Regions from separate parts of the Homo sapiens genome. Here region 1 is linked to region 2. Evidence: fine-mapped QTL for protein levels in blood plasma. A gene starts in region 2. The other region holds a variant in brackets. All regions are shown on one strand. Distances are between the middles of the regions. Region 1 overlaps PLXDC1 (plexin domain containing 1). Region 2 holds the start of PLXDC1 (plexin domain containing 1).

Evidence for each region. PIP is the chance, under the fine-mapping model, that this variant and not a neighbour inherited with it causes the effect. Protein levels are from antibody-based Olink assays in UK Biobank. Linkage for the fine-mapping came from a reference panel and not from the study's own genotypes, which makes the PIPs less certain.
Region 1: its variant is fine-mapped to the plasma level of the PLXDC1 protein (UK Biobank, PIP above 0.99). The variant lies in the coding sequence of PLXDC1. If it changes the protein, the assay may bind it differently, which can mimic a change of level.

Annotation. Positions count from the first base shown.
Region 1 is chr17:39,133,912-39,144,485 of GRCh38, forward strand. It overlaps PLXDC1 (plexin domain containing 1), which reads right to left. Exons shown (of 14, transcript NM_020405.5): 2 at 5,743-5,921. Among named protein-coding and RNA genes, the nearest start is that of PLXDC1, 12 kb to the right of the region's middle. The variant C/T (reference allele first, on the strand shown) is at 5,861.
Region 2 is chr17:39,145,828-39,156,351 of GRCh38, forward strand. It overlaps PLXDC1 (plexin domain containing 1), which reads right to left and starts at 5,810. Exons shown (of 14, transcript NM_020405.5): 1 at 5,535-5,810. The coding sequence starts at 5,610. It overlaps TRC-GCA2-3 (tRNA-Cys (anticodon GCA) 2-3), which reads right to left and starts at 7,978; the gene lies at 7,907-7,978. TRC-GCA2-4 (tRNA-Cys (anticodon GCA) 2-4) reads right to left here and starts at 8,735; the gene lies at 8,664-8,735. RefSeq lists enhancers at 7,314-7,463, 7,836-8,342, 8,343-8,847 and a silencer at 8,724-8,793.

The DNA.
Region 1 (10,574 bases), 12 kb before region 2:
CCACTGTGACTGGCTGATACACATAATTTGATGCAGGAGGTGATAAGTAATACGGAGAAAAATAGGCCAGGTGCAGTGGCTCACGCCTGTAATCCCAGCACTTTGGGAGGTCAAGGTGGGTGGATCACGAGGTCAGGAGATCAAGACCATCCTGGCTAACACGGTGAAACCCCATCTCTACTAAAAATACAAAATAGCCGGGCGTGGTGGCAGGCGCCTGTAGTCCCAGCTACTTGGGAGGCTGAGGCAGGAGAATGGTGTGAACCTGGGAGGCGGAGCTTGCGGTGAACCGAGATCGTGCCACTGCACTACAGCCTGGGCGACAGAGCAAGACTCCGTCTCAAAAAAAAAAAGAAAAGAAAAGAAAAAAAAATAAAGTCTATTCCCTGTGCCCCAGTCACAGCCCTGCAGCTGCTGGAAAACCACCACATTGGCGGGGTGTGGTGGCTCACGTCTGTAATCCTAGCACTTTGGGAGGCCGAAGCGGGTGGATTGCCTGAGCTCAGGAGTTCAAGACCAGCCTGGGCAACACAGTGAAAGCCCGTCTCTACTGAAATACAAAAAATTAGCCGGGCTTGGTAGCATGTGCCTGTAGTCCCAGCTATTCAGGAGGCTGAAGCACGAGAATTGCTAGAACCCGGGAGGCAGAGGTTGCAGTGAGCTAAGATCATGCCATCACACTCCAGCCTAGGCCACAGAGCAAGACTTTGTCTCTAAAAAAAAAAAAAGAAAAAGAAAAAACAAAGAAAAGAAAAGAAAGAAAGAAAACAACCACATCTAGAACCTTCTCTGTACCAGGCTAAATACCCCAAACGCCTTCTACCATTCCTCCAGGGACAAGAGTGCAAGCCTCTTCACCACCCCAGCTGCCCTCCCCTGGACTCTGCTTGTGTCTGGGAAACCACTTGAAAGGGGAGCACAAGCCCCTCAATGGTAGTCAGGCCCAAGAAATAGCCCGCAGGACCCCCAGAGCCCCAGCCCCAGTCCCCAGGTTTCCATCATGCAGCTGGCTTTCCCACCTCCAGCCTTGGCAGCCACTTTATGCGCCTGACTCATCCTAGCCCACAAGAAGTGGGGATCCCCAAATCTTTTCCTCGTGAGCTGCTGCTAAACCACATCTCTCCCAACTCATTCTAAACTTAAATGCCAGGATTTATATTTATCCCAGTAGTTTCATCTGTTCCGAGGCAGATGTCATTCCAGCCTGCCCATGAGGCCTTCGGGTTCCTGACCTGACATCTGCACTCTCCAGATAAGTTATCCCTTAAAGCCTGGTCCTCCTGTCTTTAGGCAGAGCCGGGGACAAGCCCTATGGCTGTCAGAGGGACCTCCTTCCAGGTGGCCTTGCTCCTGTGTGGACCCTCGATGTGTAGCTGCAGAGGGGATCACAAAGCCCCTGAGATGGTGGAAGCCTCATGTTCTGACAATCGAGCGGGTCACCAATTATAAAATTGGTTTGAAATCTTATAGATCGGAAGTTCCTGGCCAGGCATGGTGGCTCCCGCCTGTAATCCCAGCACTTTGGGAGGCTGAGGCGGGTAGATCACCTGAGGTCAGGATTCTGAGACCAGCCTGGCCAACATGGTGAAACCCCATCTCTACTAAAAATACAAAAATTAGCTGGGCGTGGTGGCGCATGCCTGTAATCCCAGCTACTTGGGAGGCTGAGGCAGGAGAAACACTTGAACCTCGGAGCCAGAGGCTTCAGTAAACCGAGAGATTACACCACTCATTCCAGCCTGGGCAACTGAGCAACACTCCGTCTAAAAAAAAAAAAAAAAAAAAGTTCCCACACCTACATGACCATCAGAATCACATTTTTAAATCTCTGCAACTTCGCCAGGAACACATGGGGAACTTGAAACAACAACAACAACAACAAATTCCCAAAATCCATTGCCCCAGTGTTTCTGAACCAGTCCATCCAGGGTGGAGCCTGAGAATTTGTGGTGTTTTTTAAGCTCTGGCGTTATTGAATCCATACTGGCTCTTAATGAACCCCACTGTCCTTTCTGAACACCCACGAACAATTGCTTCCAGAAATCTAAGTCTCCATGGCTCTTTTCTGAAAGGTCCTCTTTGTGCAGACTGGGACATAATCCTTCTGACCTGTGTGTCTGGTCCTGAGCAGGTTATCAGTTATTCAACCAATGGCCCAATAAAGCTGTGGGGTCAGGGATGAACTGCCAGGTGTCTCCTTAATCAGGGGCCTCTCCTACTCTGTCCTTCCACTCCACCATCTCACCATGGCAGTCCTGCTCCTTGCTCTGCAGGATCAAGAAGACAGGGCAGATTGGGAAGGGAGTGATGCCATGTCCCCTGAAGTTCCACCTCAAACTAGGAGCCCAAACTAGGGTGAGGTAAGGAGGCACCTACCTGGGGTACAACATCTAAGATGGCACCAAAACTCAGGAATCAAGATAGAGAATACTTCAATGCAATATTTTAAAAAATCAAAATGAATACAAAAAAATAATATTTTGATGAACAGAATATCAAAAGTTTATTATGTTTTTTATAGAGGCAAGTTCTCGTTATGTTGCCCAGGCTGGTCTCCAACTCCTGGCCTCAAGGGATCCTCCCACCTCGAGCCTCCCAAAGTGCTGGGATTACAGGCGTGAGCCACCGTGCCCGGCCCAAAGTTTTAAAGAAATACAGGTTTAGTCATGGTTCCAAACCATTTCAGAGCCTGAGATACAAGGAAAAAAACAGTAACAGAAACAATGCAGAGAGCAGAGGGGAAAAAAATCTCAAAATTGTTCTAATATCCTCAGAGAGAGAAGATATTACATCCACAAAAAAAGAACAGGATGCTTTTTTGTTAAAGAAAAATAAATCTGAAAATAAAAAAGAGCTCTTAGAAATTAACAATACGATAGTAGAGAAAAAAATCAGTGACATTATGAAAATAAGATTGAGAAAATCCTCCAGAAAGAAGAACAACAAGCACACTAACAAATAAACAACAAAAAATGCAAAAGAGACGCACAGCAGAAGAGAGAAGAAAAAATTGAAGGATCACTTCCAGAAATGGACATCTAACCATGAGGAATTGTAGAAAGGAGAAATCTGAAAGAAATAAAGCAAAAACGCTTTCCAGAACTGACAAATGTAAGTCTCTTGATTGAAACAGTCCCCCAACGTCCAGCATGGCAAACAAAAACAGCCAGAGAAGGTCATGTCACTGCAATTTCAGAATGCTGGAGTTACAGGGAGTACCCTGAGAGCTTCCAGAAGTCAGGGGAAAACCGGCATACACAAAGGTCAAAAATAAGAATCACACCAAGCCTCTAACAGTGAATCAGAAGCCAGAAGACAATGGAGAGATGCCTTCAAACTTGTGAAAGAAAACTATTTTCAAGGCCTTGAGCGGTGGCTTACACTTGTAATCCCAGCACTTTGGGAGGCAGAGGCTAGCAAATCACTTGAAGTCAGGAGTTTGAGACCAGCCTGGCCAACATGGTGAAACCCCATCTCTACTAAAAATACAAAAAATTAGCTGGGCATAGTGGCACACACCTGTAATCCCAGTTACTCAGGAGGCTGAGGTAGAAGAATCGCTTGAACCCAGGAGGAGGAGGAGGTTGCAATGAGCCAAGATTGTGCCACTGCACTCCAGCCTTGGCGACAGAGCGAGACTCCATCTCAAAAAAAAGAAAAAGTAAATTATTTTCAATCTAGAATTCTATATTCAGCCAAACCACTAGTCAAATGAAAGGACAGAATAAAGATATCTTCAGACATGCACGTTCTCAAGGGAATTTTTCCCTCTGTGCAACCTTTCCCAGGAAGCTAAACAAACAAAAGGATGAAGCAGGAAAGAGAAGACACAGGGTCAAGGGAACAGGGGATCCAACACAGGAGGGAGACAAAGGGGTTCCCAGGACGAACAGAAAGGGAGGCCCCAGGATGGCACCCGTGGTACCAGCAGGCGAGTGGCTGGGCGGGATTGGAGTGCAGGACAGGAGAGAAGTTTCTCGGGGGGATAAAGGAACTGACAGGTTTGACCACCCTGAATTATCTTATTTTCTTTCTTTTATATTTTTTCGGAGACAGAGTCTTCTTCTTTTTCCCAGGCTGGTGAGGTCACAGCTCAGCACAGCCTTGACCGCCCAGGCTCAAGCAATCCTCCAGCCTTAGCCTCCCAAGTAGCTGGGACTACAGGGGCAAACCACCACATCCAGATAATTTTTGTTTTAATTTTTTAGAGACGTGGGTCTCACTATGTTGCTTAGGCTATTCTGGAACTCCTGAGCTCAAGCGATCCACCCGTCTGGGCCTCCCAAAGTGCTAGGATTACAGGTGTGGGCCACCATGCCCAGCCCACACTGGAATTACATTTGAGGCTAGGGGACGTGTAGGAAAATGTAGCTACGGTAGGCACAGAAAACTAAGTAAGCAAGGGCAGGAGAGGGGGCCAGGATCCAGGAAGAGCCAAAATCATACAAGAAAAGAAACAATGTTATGACCCTGCCTGGATTAGAAGTGAACACTATGTACATGATCGTCACAATCCACAACCGAGCACACGGATTGAACAGGAAGATTGGGCGGCAGGGTGAAAGGTTGCTCAGCGGGAGTATACAAAAGCCAAATCTCCCTGAGCCGCAGCAGGCCATGAATAGGTACGGCCTAAAACCAGTGCACAGAGAGGTAGCAGTACAGTATAAGCAAATCCCTTGGAAATATGGAAGTAAACTCCAGAGGAAACAGCCCAGACAGAGCCTTCTGAGAAAGGGAAGGGGGCAGGCCCCAGGGGAGAGGAGGGGCAGGACTGCTGTTTTGTTTTATGATTTTAGCACTATTTAACCTTTTTTTTTTTTAACTGTCAGCACATACTAATTTAAGAAAATAGTTATTAAAATATAAAATAAATCTATACTGAGAAGAAGGTCCTCTTGTTGCTTCTTGCGTCCTAAGAATCCACCCTCATCACTCCCAGCCGCAGGCACCTACACACACAGCCACAGGCACACTCACACTTACACATGCTCATCACAGACACCCACAAACAGCCCACAGTGACAGACAGGTACACATACATAATATACAAAATCATCTGACACAGGTGCGAACCCAGCGTCCATGACACACACACCCATTCCCAGAAACGCACAATTATATTAATAGATTCACCCCCAGACACACCGAGGCTTCCAAGAGCCTCCCGGAAACCCTGAGAGAAGAGCACTCCCTCCAGGCCTCTCCTCCCTGTGCCAGCACCCCAGAACTGCCCCAGGCCAAGGAGGTTGTCTCCAGGAGCTGCACCCTAATTGCTTTCTCTACTCAGCCCCCTGCTGAGTGCCCAGCCCTTAGGCTAAGCAGCCATTAATCCTCTTGCGCCCCAGTCTGTAGATGGGGCAGAAATGGGGTGGGGAAGGGCCCCATCTGGCAGCTGAGATGTGACTCATAAGGCCACTGTCAGCTTTTTCTTCCCTAAGTCATGGGAGAGTCCAGTTTCAGGAATGCTGTGGTCAGGCTGTGCATCCTGATACAATCCATTTGATGTCTCTGGGTCCAGGAGGGAGTAGGCAGCCTATGAAACGCTGAGATGCTGTGATTTTATGACCCAGTCTGGGCCCTGCTTCCATCCCCTCCCCGGGGATTCTTCTCTCCACCCTGTCCTCCGGGGCCAACCCCAAATGATATGTGATTTGCATGTAGGACAAGCACACCTGGGGCAGCTGGTGAGACCTCCCCCACCCCCACTTCGCTCCCCCTCCATGTTCCTCCAGCACTCACCACCACCCTGGTCCTGTTATCTGGCAGCGTGTCCATGGCCAGGGTGCCCCCACCCAGGTCCTGGCTCAGCTGGGTCCTGTCCGGCTCTGACACATGCCCAGGGCTCTCTCGGGCTCTC[C/T]GGTTCCAGCCCCGCACGGTCCCTTTGGCAGCCCATCCAGAGCCTGGGCCCTCATCGTGACCTGGGAGAAGGGGACAGAAACCTGAGTGCCAGCAGTCCGGAATGAAGATCAGGAGGGGAATCCAGCCCAGTTATTCTGCAAGGGCCCCAACACCATGCCACTGTAGAATTTGCAGACACTTGACTGACTACCAGGACAGGAGACACCCAATGTGTACTGAGAGTCACGTGCCCAGCTCCAGGCCAAGCACTTCGCACATATCCTTTTAATCCTCATGCCAGCTCTCCGCAGTAGTTAGGATGTTCTCCATTTTGCAAACAAGAATCAGAGGCTCAGAGGTTAAAAGTCACGCAGTGGGTTAGGCATGCAGGTAAGTTTCAAACCCAAGCTGATCTGCCTCCAAAGGGTGATTATTCTCAACCTCAGCTATACACTGGAGTCACCTGGACAGCTTCAAAAGTTCCTGATGTCTGGGTCCCACCCTAGAGATCTCTTGTAACTGGTCTATGGTGTAGCCTGGGCATTCAATTTCTTTTTCTTTTTCTTTTTTTGAAATGGAGTCTCGCTCTGTCACCCAGGCTGGAGTGCAGTGGCCCGAGCTCCGCTCCCTGCAAGCTCCGCCTCCAGGGTTCACGCCATTCTCCTGCCTCAGCCTCCCGAGTAGCTGGGACTACAGGCGCCCGCTACCGCGCCCAGCTAATTTTTTGTATTTTTAATAGAGACGAGGTTTCACCGTGTTAGCCAGGATGGTCTCAATCTCCTGACCTCGTGATCCACCCGTCTCGGCCTCCCAAAGTGCTGGGATTACAGGCGTGAGCCACCGCGCCTAGCCTCGATTTCTTAAAAGAGCCTCAGGGGAGATTTTGAGGAGTCTTGGACTTAACTCTGCAGGCAAGGGTGAGAACCATTGCCGTTGAGCCTTCCAAACCAGTTTCTTATTTCTCTGGCAGAAATGGCACATAATCCTATTTCCCAGTGGGGTCAGGGGACTAGAAGCCAGAGTTCTTTTCGTTCAGGGCTTCTCAACCTCGGTACTATTGACATTTGGACTGGATAATTCCTTTTCCAATTTTTTTATTGTGGCAAAATACACATAACAAAATTTGCCATCTAACCATTTCCAAGTGTACAATTCAGTAACATTAAATACATTCCTAATGTTGTATGACCATCACCACCATCTATCTGCATAACTCTTTTCACCTTGTAAAACTAAAATTCTGTACCCGTTAAATAATAACTCCCTATTCACCCCTGTTATTTTATTTTATTTAAGAGATGGGGCCTTGCTCTGTCACCCAGGCTGGGGAGTAGTGGTGCGATCATAGCTCACTGCAGCCTCCAACTGCTGGGCTCATGCGATCCTCCCACCTCAGCTTCCTAAGTAGCTGGGACTATAGGCATGCGCCACCATGCCCAGCTAATCTTTTTACTTTTTATAGAGACAGGGTCTCACTATTTTGTTCAGGGTGGTTGGTCTTGAATTCCTGGTCTCAAGCAATTTTCCTGCCTTGGCTCCCAAGGTGCTGGGATTACAGATATGAGCCACAGCGCGCAGCCTGTATCTATGATTTTGACTACTCTAAGTATCTCATATAAATGGCATCATACTATATTTGTCTTTTTGTGATTGGCTTATTTCACTTAGCATAATAAATTCAAGGTTCATTCATGTCGTAGCATATGGCAGAATTGACTTCCTTTTGAAGGCTGAATAATATTCCATTGTGTGGATATACCACATTTTGCTAACCCACTCAACTATCAATGGATGTCTGTTTTGCTTCCACGTTTTAGCTATTGTGAACAATGCTGCTACAAACATGGGTGTACAAATATCTCTTTGAGACCTGGCCTTCAATTCTTTTGGGTATATACCCAGAAGCGGAATTGCTGGATTGTATGGTAATTCTATTTCTAATTTTTTGAGGAATTGTCATACTGTTTTCCATATAAAATGTTTTCCATGTAAAATGACTGGACCATTTTACATTCCCACCAACCGTGCACATGGGTTCCAATCTCTCCACATTCTTGCCAATACTTGTTATTTTCTGTTTTTTTTATAGTAGCCATCCTAACAGGTATGAGGTTATATCTCATCGTTTTTATAAATTGGCATTTCCCTGATGATTAGTGATGCCGAACATCTTTTCATATGCTTGTGGGCCATTTGTATATCTTCTTTGGAGAAATGTCTATTTAAGTCTTTTTCCTGTTTTTAAATTGGATTGTTGGTTGGACTGGATAATTCATTGTTATGCGGGAACTGTCCAGTGCTCTGTAAGATGTTTAGCAGCCGCAGCCTTGGCCCCTGCTCACTAAATGCCAGTAGCACCACGCTCCTCCCCATCCCAAGCTGTGACAATGAAAAACGTCTCCAAACATTGCCAAATATCCCCTGGGGAATAAAATTAACCCCCCCTTGCCCCATTGAGGGAGGGGTAATTTTTTACTGTTTTACTCCTATCACTACCTAGATACTGTCTAGGATGGCAAATAGGTTTCATATCACATGCCATCTGCAATCCATTCGTGACAGCCAGAGGCACTCCAACTGAGAATGCAAAGGCTCCTCTTGTATTTAGCAGGAAGGACTGTGAAGATCAATAAGCAATGTCTGCCATGGGCACAGGATTGGAAAGTGACTACACACAGGCCATTTCGCGGCCATGCGAACCTCCATTTCTGGAGGTTGCGAAATGGCTTTAGGTTCCATGATCTCCTCTCCAGTTCCCTCTAGGTTGTTAAATGCATGCTTTTTTTGAGACAGGGTCTCACTCTAGCATGCAGGCTGGAGTGCAGTGGCACAATCACAGCTCACTGTACGCTTGACCTCTCAGGCTCAAGCAATCCTCCCACCTCAGCCTTCTGAGTAGCTGGTACTACAGTTGCATGCCACCACACCCGGCTAGTTATTATTATTTTATTTTGTATTTTTCGTAGAGGCTGGGTTTCACCATGTTGCCTACACTGGCCTTGAACTCCTGGGCTCTAGCGGTCCTTCCACCTTGGCCTCCCAAAGTGGTGGGATTATAAGCGTGAGCCACTGCACCAGGTCTGTTAAATTAGTTCTAACAAAAGGCCGGGCGTGGTGGCTCACACCTATAATCCTAGCACTTTGGGAGGCTGAGGTGGGTGGATCACCTGAGGTCAGGAATTCGAGACCAGCCTGGCCAACATGACGAAACCCCGTCTCTACTAAAAATACAAAAATTAGCCGGGCATGGTGGCGGGCACCCATAATCCCAGCTACTCGGGAGGCTGAGGCAGGAGAATTGCTTGAACCTGGGAGGCAGAGGTTGCAGTGAGCCGAGATTGCGCCACTGTACTCCAGCCTGGACAAAAAAGCGAAACTCCTTCTCCAAATAAATAAATAAACAACACAAAAACCATCCTTTTCCACTTCAAAAAGATTTATGCCCCCCAAAGCTGTGGCTTTTATTGTCATTCTAATGGTCACACCTACTATGGATGTATATATGAGAACAGACCATCAGATAGGTGGATCTGACATTCCCCACCTATGACCCTCTTCCATTTCAGGCCCACCCTGTGTCAGATACCTGTCTCAACCTCTGCCTTCCCCCAGCCCACTCCCCAGAGCTCCTGGATGTGGCTCTCCCTCTCCTAGAGCACCTACGTGTGCGACTATGTGCCTATCTCCCTGGTAGATTTGAGTTCCCCCAGGATTCTCTCCACCTTCTTCAAATTTGGCATGTCCAGCAAACAGCAGGTGCTCCATCACTGCAGAATTGAGGACGCAGTGCATAGGGTAGCTCCTGGGAGCCAGCAAGGACAGAGGTTGAGACCAGGCTTGGCCAGGCCCAGGCCTGGGGCTGAGGCCAGAACTCCGCTGTGGGGCCCTGCTTTGTCATTAGACATTGTATCCAATTAAGTCATTCTTGGCTGCTGGCGCCTACTGGACCCTTGCCGGCCCCCTCTCACTTCTCTGCCCCTAATAGCAACCAGATGCTGCTGGAGCACGTGGGGAGGAGGGCAGTCCCCAGACCCCTTCCCCAAGATGCCCACTGGCTGCCCACAGATGGACATGAGTCCAGGGCTGGGAAGGCAGCCTGCCCACTGCCCAGGCCCAAGCCAGGGCTGTCTGGTCTCTCTTGGGTGGGGCCCACAGCTGCTTCTGGAGACAGAGCTGTTTGTGCTGGGCTGGTCTGCCCAGCTCCCCAGGTCTTCCTGCAAGCAGCCCTGGGGCCTGGGCAGGAGCCAGAACAGGATAGAGCGGGTAGTGAACAAGTGGAGGGGCTCAGCGGCCCAGAGAGGAGTGTTGGGGATCTTCAGGATTCACAAACCTGGAGCCGAGACAGGAGGCGGGATGGTGGAGGCCTGCAGCCCGGGGAAGGACAGGGAGGGGGCCCAGCTGGGGGTGGCCAGGGAAGAGACACTGGGTTGACCTCCACACCCAGTCTTGCCACTCACAAGTTATGGGACCTTAGCCCCATCAGTTTTCCTCTCTAATCCTCAGCTCCCTAGTGACTCAAATGGATTTGACGATGGTGCCCACAGTACAGGCTGCCATAAGCGTCAAGTGAGAAACACAAATGAGGTTTTATAGAGAGCTCAGGCCAGGGTAAGAGGTAAAGAGTCCATGAAAGAGGGCAGGGCGAGGGATGGAGAGGGAGCTTGACCAGGACCCTGGCCTACCCTGGCCTAGCCCTGAATCTTACTCTTCCAACCCATACTACATCTGTTTCC
Region 2 (10,524 bases):
CACACACTCTCTAAGACTCAGTTTCCTCATCTGTGAGATGGGGCTGATAAAACATAAACTTGGTAGGTTTGACACTTTAACAAAATCATATACACAGAGCACCCAGCAAGTCGCCCTGCCTTCCCTGGGTTTCACATGAGGACTGAAACCGTCTTCTCAGGGTTAACAAGAATTACATGCCGGGTTCTGGGCAGAAGTATAGGAGTAATTAAGCATTAATCAGGCTGCACTTCGGCCCATTCCTTTTTTTTTTTTTTTTTTGAGAGGGAATCTCGATATGTCACCCAGGCTGGAGTACATTGGTGTGATCTCAGCTCCCTGCAACCTCCACCTCTCGGGTTCAAGCAATTCTCCTGCCTCACCATCCCAAGTAGCTGGGACTACAGGAGTGCGCCACCACACCCAGCTAATTTTTATATTTTTAGCAGAGATGGGGTTTCACCATGTTGGCCAGGCTAGTCTTGAGCTCCTGACCTCAAATGATGCTCCCGCCTTGGCCTCCCAAAGTGCTGGGATTATAGGCATGAGCCACCACGCCTGGCCAGCTTTTATTTAAGAATTGTTTAAGGCCAGGTGCAGTGGCTCATGCCTATAATCCCAACACTTTGGGAGGGTGAGGTGGTGGGATCACTTGAGTCCAGGAGTTCGAGACCAGACTGGACAACATAGCAAGACCCCATCTCTACTAAAATTTTTTTTAAAGTCTGGACATGGTGGCTCATGCCTGTAGTCCCAGCACTTTGGAAGGCCAAGACAGGAGGATTACCTGAGCCCAGGAGTTGGAGATCAGCCTGGGCAACATGGCAAGACCTTGTCTTTTTTATAATAAAAAAAGGTATTATAAAATTTAATTTATTATTAATAATAAATTTTAAAAAATTAGCCAGATGTGGTGGTGCATGCCTGCAGTCCCAGCTACTCAGGAAGCAGAGGCAGGAGGATCACTTGAGCCCAGGAAGTTGAGGCAGCAGTGAGCTATGATCACACCACTGCACTCCAGCCTGAACAACAGAGTGAGACCCTGTCTCAAAAAAGAAAAAAAAAAAAGAAGGATTAAGATGGTTTTCGGATCCTGAATTCCAGCAGAAGGGCCAATTCGAAGACCCTCAGACAGGAAATGATTTTTTTTTTTTTTTTTTTTTTTTTGAGACGGAGTCTCGCTCTGTCACCCAGGCTGGAGTGTAGTGGCACGATCTCGGCTCACTGCAACCTCTGCCTCCCGGATTCAAGCAATTCTCCTGCCTCAGCCTCCCAAGTAGCTGGGATTACAGGCATGTACCACCACGCCCAGCTAATTTTCTTGTGTTTTTAGTAGAGACAGGGTTTCACCATATTGGGCAGGCTGGTCTCGAACTCCTGACCTTGTGATCCACCCACCTCGACCTCCCAAAGTGCTGGGATTACAGGCGCGGGCCACCGCGCCCAGCCGAGGAACTGATTTAACATGAGAATGCAGTTTCTTTATTTCTTCATGCACTCTTCAACCAATTAACAATTCCCACACGTTGGCCACCCCACCCCAAACCCCATAAAACCTCTAGCCCCAAATGCTGCCCCACGATGATGAAACTCTTTCTCTGCTGCCCCCTCGGTGTTGGTGTGTCAACTTGCTGCACCTTGGGCAACACACCAGTTAGGGTCACAGGACCAGCTTTCAGAGGGGCCAGGGAAGGCTCCAAACCCTAAACTGAAATCCTGCCTCCAAGTTACAAAGCCCCTAACCATACCCTCTCCCTTTCCTCTGGCAGGTAGGGACCCACTGAGGACCCTCACCTGGGGAGAGGGAAGGAGTCAAAGGAAGTGCAGGGAGGGACCACCAGGTAGCAGAAGGGAAGAGGGAGGGAGGGAAGGGGAGGGGAGGGGAAGGGAGGGACAGCAAGAAGAGTTCAGCTCTCTATGTGTGTCCCTTGAGGGGAGAGTCTGGGATCTGTGCCACCTCTGATATACTCACTCAGTCACTCACTCATTCATTCAATACACTTTTATTGAGTCGCAGGCACTGTGCTGGGTGCTGGGGGGACACAAGCCCTGTACCCAGGAAGAGTCTAGTTTTCTTCATGGAGACATACAAAATGAATCATTTGGTAAGGGCTATGAAGAAAATCAGACAGAGGAAAGGGTTGGGGTTGTTGCTACTCTACACAGAGCCATGAGGTGGGGCTCTCTGAGGAGGGTCCCCTTGAGCTGATTAAGACCTGAATGAGAAGAAGCCAGTTAGTTATCTGTCGATCGGAGGGGACGGCAGCTGGAGTGGGTTAAGGGGTGAATCTGGGGAGAGCTAGAGAAGATGGTGGGATGAGGGAGGGGCTGCCTGACCTCCATAAGTTCGCATTTTAGTCTCAGGTTGTTGGAGCCCTAGAGACAATCTGGTCCAACCTCCTTCCCTCCTTTTTTTAAAAAAAGATGGGACCTCGTTATGCTGCCCTCACTATGTGGCATGATCATAGCTCACTGCAGCCTCCAGTTCCTGGGCTCAAACGATCCTCCTGCCTCAGCCTTCCGAGTACCTGGGACTACAGGCGCACACCGCCATGCCCAGCTAATTTTTTATTTTAATTTTAATTTTTTTTTTTGACAGAGTCTTACTCTGTTGCCCAGGCTGGAGTGCAGTGGTGCGATCTCAGCTCACTATAACCTCTGCCTCTCGGGTTCAAGCTATTCTCCTGCCTCAGCTTCCTGAGTAACTGAGATTACAGGCATGCACCACCACGCCTGGCTAATTTTTACTAATATACTAATATTAATAATATTAATAACAATACTAAATATACTAATTTTTGTATATTTAGTAGAGACGGGGTTTCACCATGTTAGCCAGGCTGGTCTCAAACTCCTGACCTCAGGTGATCCGCCGGCCTCGGCCTCCCAGAGTGCTGGGATTACAGGCATGAGCCACCCTGCCTGGCCTAAATCATTTATAGACATGGGGTCTCACTATTTTGCCCAGGCTGGTCTCAAACTCCTGGTCTAAAGCTATCCTCCCACCTCAGCCTCCCAAAGTGTTAGGATCACAAGCATGAGCCACCGTGACTGGTGCAAGCCCCCATTTTATAGACGGGGAAACCTTCCTCAGAGAAAGGAGGAAGCTGTCAGGGTCACCAGTAGTTGGTATTGAGCCTGGCCTCCTGCAGGACTCCCAGGCCAGGATGCCAACTCTCGCTGCCTCTTCTTTATCTGTCATATGCACCTCTGGTTCCATCTGACCAGACTGTCAGTTCCCTGGGCCCCTGCTCTGCACCCCAAGGCCATTTTCCTGTCTGTCATCCTGGTCTCCCCTGCTGTCTGACTCTGTCTTTGGGCCACTCATCTCTCTGCTGCTGCTGTTCTAATGATAGATGAGGTTTCAAGGCTCTACCAAACAAGCCTGTCCATCAGGAGCGAGGGGAGATCTCAGCTACTTCCCAAGGCCCCCCACCAGCCCCACAAACCCAGAGCCTTGGGGAAGGATGCTAGCATCTCTTCAGGTCCTGCTCCCAGCTGCCCTTCCACTGGTCACAACAACTCCGCCATCAATCAGGTCAGGCTGCCCCTCCTTAGCAACTCTCCCCCAGAACGTCCTTCTCCTACATCTGGCCTCCCCAGACACCCGCTTCCTCCTCATAGGTCCTCCTGCCTGTGAAATCCCACCTGGCCTGTGAAAAGGGCACCGGACTGGGAGTCAACAGCTGCCGCCTCTGGCTTCTTACAGATTCCTTAAGTCTAACCTCTATCCCTCCTGCTGCAGAAAAAGTGCATTTCTCCTGGCTCAATCTCTGTCAAAGCCAAGAAGACAGGATAGCCTCTACTTAGAGAAGTGATTCAAGTCTCTGCCTGCCCCACTCTTCCTGGTCTCCTCAACCGTCTACTACCCCAACCCTACTCTGAAGGGGCCGCCCTCAGCCAGGCCCGGGTCTGGCCACTATCTCCCAGCCCATCCTTGTTACCTCCCAATTCCCCCTTCCCCAGCCCTCTCCGTGGTTCACACAATCCAGCCAAAGGTTCAGATCCTCCCCTCATAAACTCTGTTACACCCAGAGTTCAGAAGATCACACCAGGTTGAGGATTCAAAGGAGCCCAGAAATTATTCATAACATATCCAACTCTCTCCTGTTTACCTTGATTTTTTTAAAGTATCAGTTACCCATAAAGACCCTAACAAATATGAAAAGGAAAGGCAATTATAAAAGATCCTTCATTATTCCACGCACAAGAGTCAAAGATTTTGCCAACAGCCTCACTTTATAAATGCAAAAATAGGTCCAGAGAGAGAAAGTAACTTGTCTAAAGTCACACAGCAAGTGAGATGGCGGGACTAGAAGCCACGTCTCTGGCCACCCTCTGTGTGGTCTCCCTGAAAATTGGTGGTTCTCACCAGCAGCTTCTCGGTTCGTCAGCTCCACTGCCCTCTGCCCATACTTCCCACTGTCAGCCTCCTTCCCCTCCCACCCCCAACATACTCTTCTTCTCAATAGGGACCCAGGTCTGTCTCAGCTACATGCTGGGACCATTAAAGTCAAGAACATTGCCACTGACACTGTGCCTGGTGCCAGCACACTCCTGAGACACAGCAGGTCAACCACAGCACTCACCTCAACAGCGCCTCCCTCACCCCACCTGAGGGGCACCCATGCCAATGATGCACAGGTATCTATCTTCTTAATCATCTCTGCTGAGGGGCCAGGCTGCAAATTACCCATCTCCCCAACCCCAGAGAAAGTCTAGGTGCTTAGGGGAGAACAGAGACTATGAAAATTATACCATGAGGGATTCCAGGTAGATCTCAGAAAGGACTTCCAGGTGGGAGAGATGAGTTTGGAGAACTGGTAGGGGGGAAGAGGAGTGTGCAGAATGGGACGCCTCCCTCCACCCCCTACCCCAGTGCCCCATCTAGAGCCAGAGTAGCTGAAAGCCAAAGGCTGCCAGGGCAAATGGGAGCAGGTGTGAGGAGGGGGACTCTTGAGGCTGGGGGTGCAGAAGCAGCAAGTTGCTTCTTCCTGGGCCCACTGCCTCTCTACTGACACCAAATAGGCAAGGGAAGGTGACCGAATGGCTGCTGCCTTCCCAGGCAGAGACGCTGTGTCCCCACCATCCCCCTGGCTGCTCCCACCTATCCCTAGCCTGGATCAGCTTTGGGGTCGGGGGTGTGGCAGAGAAGAGGAAAAGAAGGCATGGCTGGGGCAGGGGCCTCCCCAGGCTCCCATCTCATCAGAATTCAGCCTTGCCTGGGGTGATCAGGGGTCCTGATGACTCTCCCGCTGTCCCCTTTCAGAGCCCATGGCCACATAGAGCCCCCTCTCCTAAGGTCCCTCCAGTATCCTTCCAGGAGAGAAGGAGAGGTCCGGGCATCGGTGTCTCCACCGTCACTCACACACCCTATGTGTTTGGGAAAGTGGGGTCCCTATCCACCTGCCCACAGCCCACAGCTCTCCTGGCCTCCTGCGGACAATGCCCCCCTCGCGGACATCGCCAGGCCGTCCACACCTGCCCATGCCCACACCTGACTGCCCGTCCCTCCCCGCCCCCGGCCCACCCGGGCCGGCTCCCGCCAGTCCTACCTGCTCCGGGCTGGGGGCTCAGCGCCCGGGCAGCCTCCCTGAGCACCAGCACCAGGAGCCAGAGCTCGCCTCGCATGGTGGGTGCCCGGACCTGCCCCCGGCCTGCTTGCTGCCCCGGTCCTGACGAGGGAGGGGGCCCTGGCTCAGGCTGCGGCCGCGCGGTCCCCGGGGCTGGCGGAGGGGCGGGCGGCGAGGAGACGGCGGAGCGCGGGGCCGGGCGAGCCGGCAGGAGCGGCGAGAGCGCGAGCGGAGCTGGAGGCTGCGGCCTCCGGGAGCAGGCGGGGAGCTGGGGGGGCCGCTGGGTCGGTGGGGGTGGGGGGGAGCTGGGGCAGGGGGCGGGGCGGGGGGCGCGGCGTCGTTGGGGGCTCTCCCGGCGCCTGCCCTCAGCCCTAACGGAGCGCTCCCCTAGAGCTCTGCAGCCGCTCCCAAGGCAAGGGGTGCAGAGTAGGGGACAGGGCGGGAGCCCCTCGGGCTGAGAGAACCCCTAGAAGCATCAGCCGCCCCGCGCTCCTCACTGAGCTCCTGGCTCCCTTTCCCTCCTCCGTTCCGCCGGGAAAGCTGCAGAGAGAAGGCCCGAGGACTGGACCCCTGGAAGGGACAGGCGCCCCATCCCTGGGTCACGGGCCCCTGACTGTTCCCCGCCCCCAGCTCCTCCAAGCTCTGCGACTTCCTGAGCTGTTCTTCGGAATTCTGTGCGTCTCTGATGCTTTGTCCTCCAGCCCCCACCCCCAGAAATCTCCCCCTGCAGCAAAGACCCCCAGCTTTTCTCCCCAAGAGGGGCCTGAATCCCACCCCCCTTCCATGACTCCACCTTATCCCTCCACCCCCCATTTCCAGCACCGATTTGCCCCCCAAGCCTAGCAGACGTGAGGGTGGAGGGGGCCTGGCTACCCCTTACTCTGCAACAGTCTGGACCCCTCCCCACGAGTAGGTAACCCAGGCCTCCTGCCTCTCTGGGGCCTCCAGGCCTACTCAGGGCCAGACCCAATCAATCTTCAGAGCCAGCCCCAGACGAGGAAATGGCTCACCCCACCTGTCACCACCTTCTGACAGGCTCTGGGGATAGATAATCTTTTTATTTTTTCTTCCAGGACAGAATAAAAATACCCGCAATGTAGGATATTTAATAGACGGCAAGGAATCAGGTCAGGACACGAAGATGCCTCTTCCCTCCCCTGACCTACTTCGTTCTTGTGACGGCAAGGAGCTGGGGCGCTGGAGAGTGGGAGACGGGGTGAGGGGGCATCCTGGCTTCTAGTGGGCTGGGGCCTAGGGACTAGAAAACCGCGGAGAGGAAGGGTGCGAACGCTGAGCGCCATTGGAGAAATTTTCCAGGAGGAGGGATATGGGCGGGGACAGGAGAAGGTACACTGTGGGCTGGAAGAGACGGATTCCGTGGCACTGAGGTTAAAAAAAAAAAAAAGAAAAGAAAAGAAAAAAAAACACCTAAGAAAGGAAACAACTAAAGGCTCTCTAATCTCTTAGAACGCCGGTTCCTCCTTCCGCCGGGCCCAGAGTCCCAGAGACTACCTCCTCCAGCCCTAAACCCAATGTCCCCTTACCGTGGAACAAGGCAAGGCCGGTCTGTAAATTCTTCTTGATGTCTAATTTAAATCCCAACTTGGCGGACTCTCAAACAGAATCAGATAGGCAGCTACCTCCAGCTGCAGCTACTTGCTGCCCTCAAGTGGCCACGTGACGAGCCACAACCCTCTTGTCCTGCGGGTTTCCTCTTTCCCCAGCCTGCCCACCCCCTGTCTCCGACCTCCTGCCTTCCTCGAGGTCAAGGTGAGAAGTCTCGGGACGGATTCCAGCTCCAGCCCCGGCGTCTTTGCACATTCCTCCATCTGGGGTACCTCGTGGTCTGTCTTACAAGAAGAGCTCAGGCTGAAACATAAACTTGTAAATAGTAGAAGCAAATGTGTAAATTTTAACGTAAGCCTCTAGAACTTGAGATCGTAATCACCTGCAGGGTGTGTGTGTGTGTGTGTGTGTGTGTGTGTGTGTGTGTGTGTGTGTATTTTGTTTGTTTTTTGAGACAGGTTCTCGCACGTTGCCTAGGCTGGAGTGCAGTGCTGCGATCATAGCTCACTGCAGCTTCCAACTCCTGGACTCAAGCGATGGGGAGCGTATATGAAAACACAGATTTCTGGACTCCACCCTCAAGTTTCTAATTCATTAGGTCTGGGATGAGGCCCGAGCGTACCCAGGTAATGCTGCTGGTCCCAGGACCACATTTTGAGAGCCACTGCTGTTGAATCCCCAGTTCCTTTCAGTCCCTCACTGCTCCTCGTCTGCCAGTAGGAGTAAAAGCAAACAGCTTAGGAAAAATCGACACCCAGGACAAAAACAGTATCTCGAAAAGGCCAAAGAGGGGGCACCCGGATTTGAACCGGGGACCTCTTGATCTGCAGTCAAATGCTCTACCACTGAGCTATACCCCCTCTGCCGGCAAACCGACCGCACGTAGTCGTTTAGTGGTATTGCTGCGCAGGCGCTGTGTGGCGTTCCCGAAGGGAAGTGGAAGTGGGGTAAGACGTTTACAAGAGATGGAAAAAATACAACTCCCAGAAGAATTACTCACTTGGAAGCAGGGGTTGTTCCCTGAAGCTCTGAGCTGAAGATCCCCACTGGCAGTATAAGAAAATATATTCCTGGGGTGTGGAAGGAGAAGTCTCTCGAAATATTTCACTTCGGGGGCGTCCCACTCTCCTGCCCTGCAGAAGACCCCTTGCCACGTCTCGGAGCTTCTTTCTCCCTCCCACATGCTCACGCGGCTTCTCCCGACCTGTCTTCCCCAGCCCAGCCCTTAGAAACTCAGCCTCCTTCCCGCCAAGAAAGAGCCAGGCTGACCTGGGGGTGCGCTCGCCTCCGCCCTGCCATTGCGAGGTTGAGCCACCCGTACCGTGTTCCAAGGGTCAGCCCGGAGCTCCTCGCCCTCACTCGCATTGCATTCTACCCTGGGTACACACACAGGCTGAGCCACTGGCAGGGGCCAGGACTCCATCCTCACTCGCCTGCGAAAGCAAAAAGGGTGGCAGGGCTCGAGACTCCCTCCCATTCCATCTGTGCGGGAACTCTTTAGAGGACCTCCGGAGACCAACAAAACGAGGTAACTCCGGAGCACAGAGGGGGCACCCGGATTTGAACCGGGGACCTCTTGATCTGCAGTCAAATGCTCTACCACTGAGCTATACCCCCGCCACGCCACTACGTTGTCATTAGAGTTAATTTCTATGGAATAGGGGTGTGGTCTTCATTTTCCCTTAAAGTTTTAATCTGAGGGTTGCGTCGGGATACCTACTGAAAAAAACACAAAATACAATGGGAATGGCTAGAACTCCTGAGTTCTTCCTTCATAGCCACGCTTTCGGAAAACCAACTAGATTAAGGAATCTTGGGCCGAGAGCGGTGGCTCACGCCTGTAATCCCAGCACTTTGGGAGGCCGAGGCGGGTGGATCACAAGGTCAGGACATCGAGACCTCCTGGCTAACACAGTGAAACCCCGTCTCTACTAAAAATACAAAAATTAGCCGGGTGTGGTGGCGGGCGCCTGTAGTCCCAGCTACTCGGGAGGCTGAGGCAGGAGAATGGCGTGAACCCTGGAGGCGGAGCTTGCAGTGAGCCGAGATCGCGCCACTGCACTCCAGCCTGGGCAACAGAGCGAGACTCTGTCTCAAAAAAAAAGGAATATTGGGTCCTCTATATCCGTGCCTAGACTCTCCCCCAAATGTCCACTGACTGGCTTGAGAAAAGGACTGTCCCCAGGACCGCCCCAGGTCCAGGGATGTACAGATGAACAGACTGGATCTCCATCTTGTCTCCTGGGCTTTTCCAACCCCAGGGTCGCTCCTCCCCTTCTCTCAAACCAAAAGCCAGTTTGAGGAACAGACAGAGGAGAAGGCTGAAATAAGAGGTAAGCATTTTTCAATAGCATTTACTACAGCCTTATAAAAATCCTAATACAGTATTTTTTTTAAAATCCTGGCCGGGCGCGGTGGCTCGCGCCTGTAATCCCAGCACTTTGGGAGGCCGAGGCGGGCGGATCACGAGGTCAGGAGATCGAGACCATCCTGGCCAACATGGTGAAACCCCATCTCTACTAAAAATACAAAAAAATTAGCAGGGCGTGGTGGTGCGCGCTTATAGTCCCAGCTACTCGAGAGGCTGGGGCAGGACAATCGCTTGAACCCGGGAAGCGGAGGTTGCAGTGAGCCGAGATCGCGCCACTACTGCTCTCCAGCCTGGGCGGTAGAGCGAGACTCCAACAATAACAACAACAACAAAAATCATTACACAAAGACAAACAAGCAGCCCCTTTAGGAATCTGGTATATTTGGGAGGAGTGGGATTCAAATTGGAAGGACACTAGAAGTAAAGGGGATGCTGTGGGGTGGCTTAAAGTCCAAGAGCTGTGGTCAGAGTCAGCATCTCAGAGGGAATGGGAAGACGAGGAGAAGTGGAATCCCTGCAGTGCAAAGGGCTGTCCCTATCTGGGACGTCCTGTCCTCCTCCATTTCCCCTTCCAGTTTTTGCCTCTGCCCTCCTCCCCTTGAGCCCACCTTCTTCACCTTGCTAGAATCTCCTTTGCCCAAAGGGAATGGGACAAAAATGGCTGAGGGGCTAAAAAGCCTGAGGGTGGAAGGAGGTTTGAGGAAATGAAGAGCAATTCCAGGGTTTTTTGTTTTTGTTTTTGTTTTTTTTTGAGTCGGAGTCTCTCTCTGTCGCCCAGGCTGGAGTACAGTGACCCGATCTCAACTCACTGCAACCTCCGCCTCCCAGGTTCAAAGGATTCTCCTGTCTCAGCCTCCCGAGTAGCTAGGATTACAGACGCCCGCCACCACGTCCGGCTAATTTTTGTATTTTGCTTTGTTTTGTTTGAGACGGTGTCTCGCTCTGTCACCCAAGCTGGAGTGCAATGGCACAATCTCGGCTCACTGCAACCTCCACCTCCCGGGTTCAAGCAATTCTTCTGCCTCAGCCACCCGA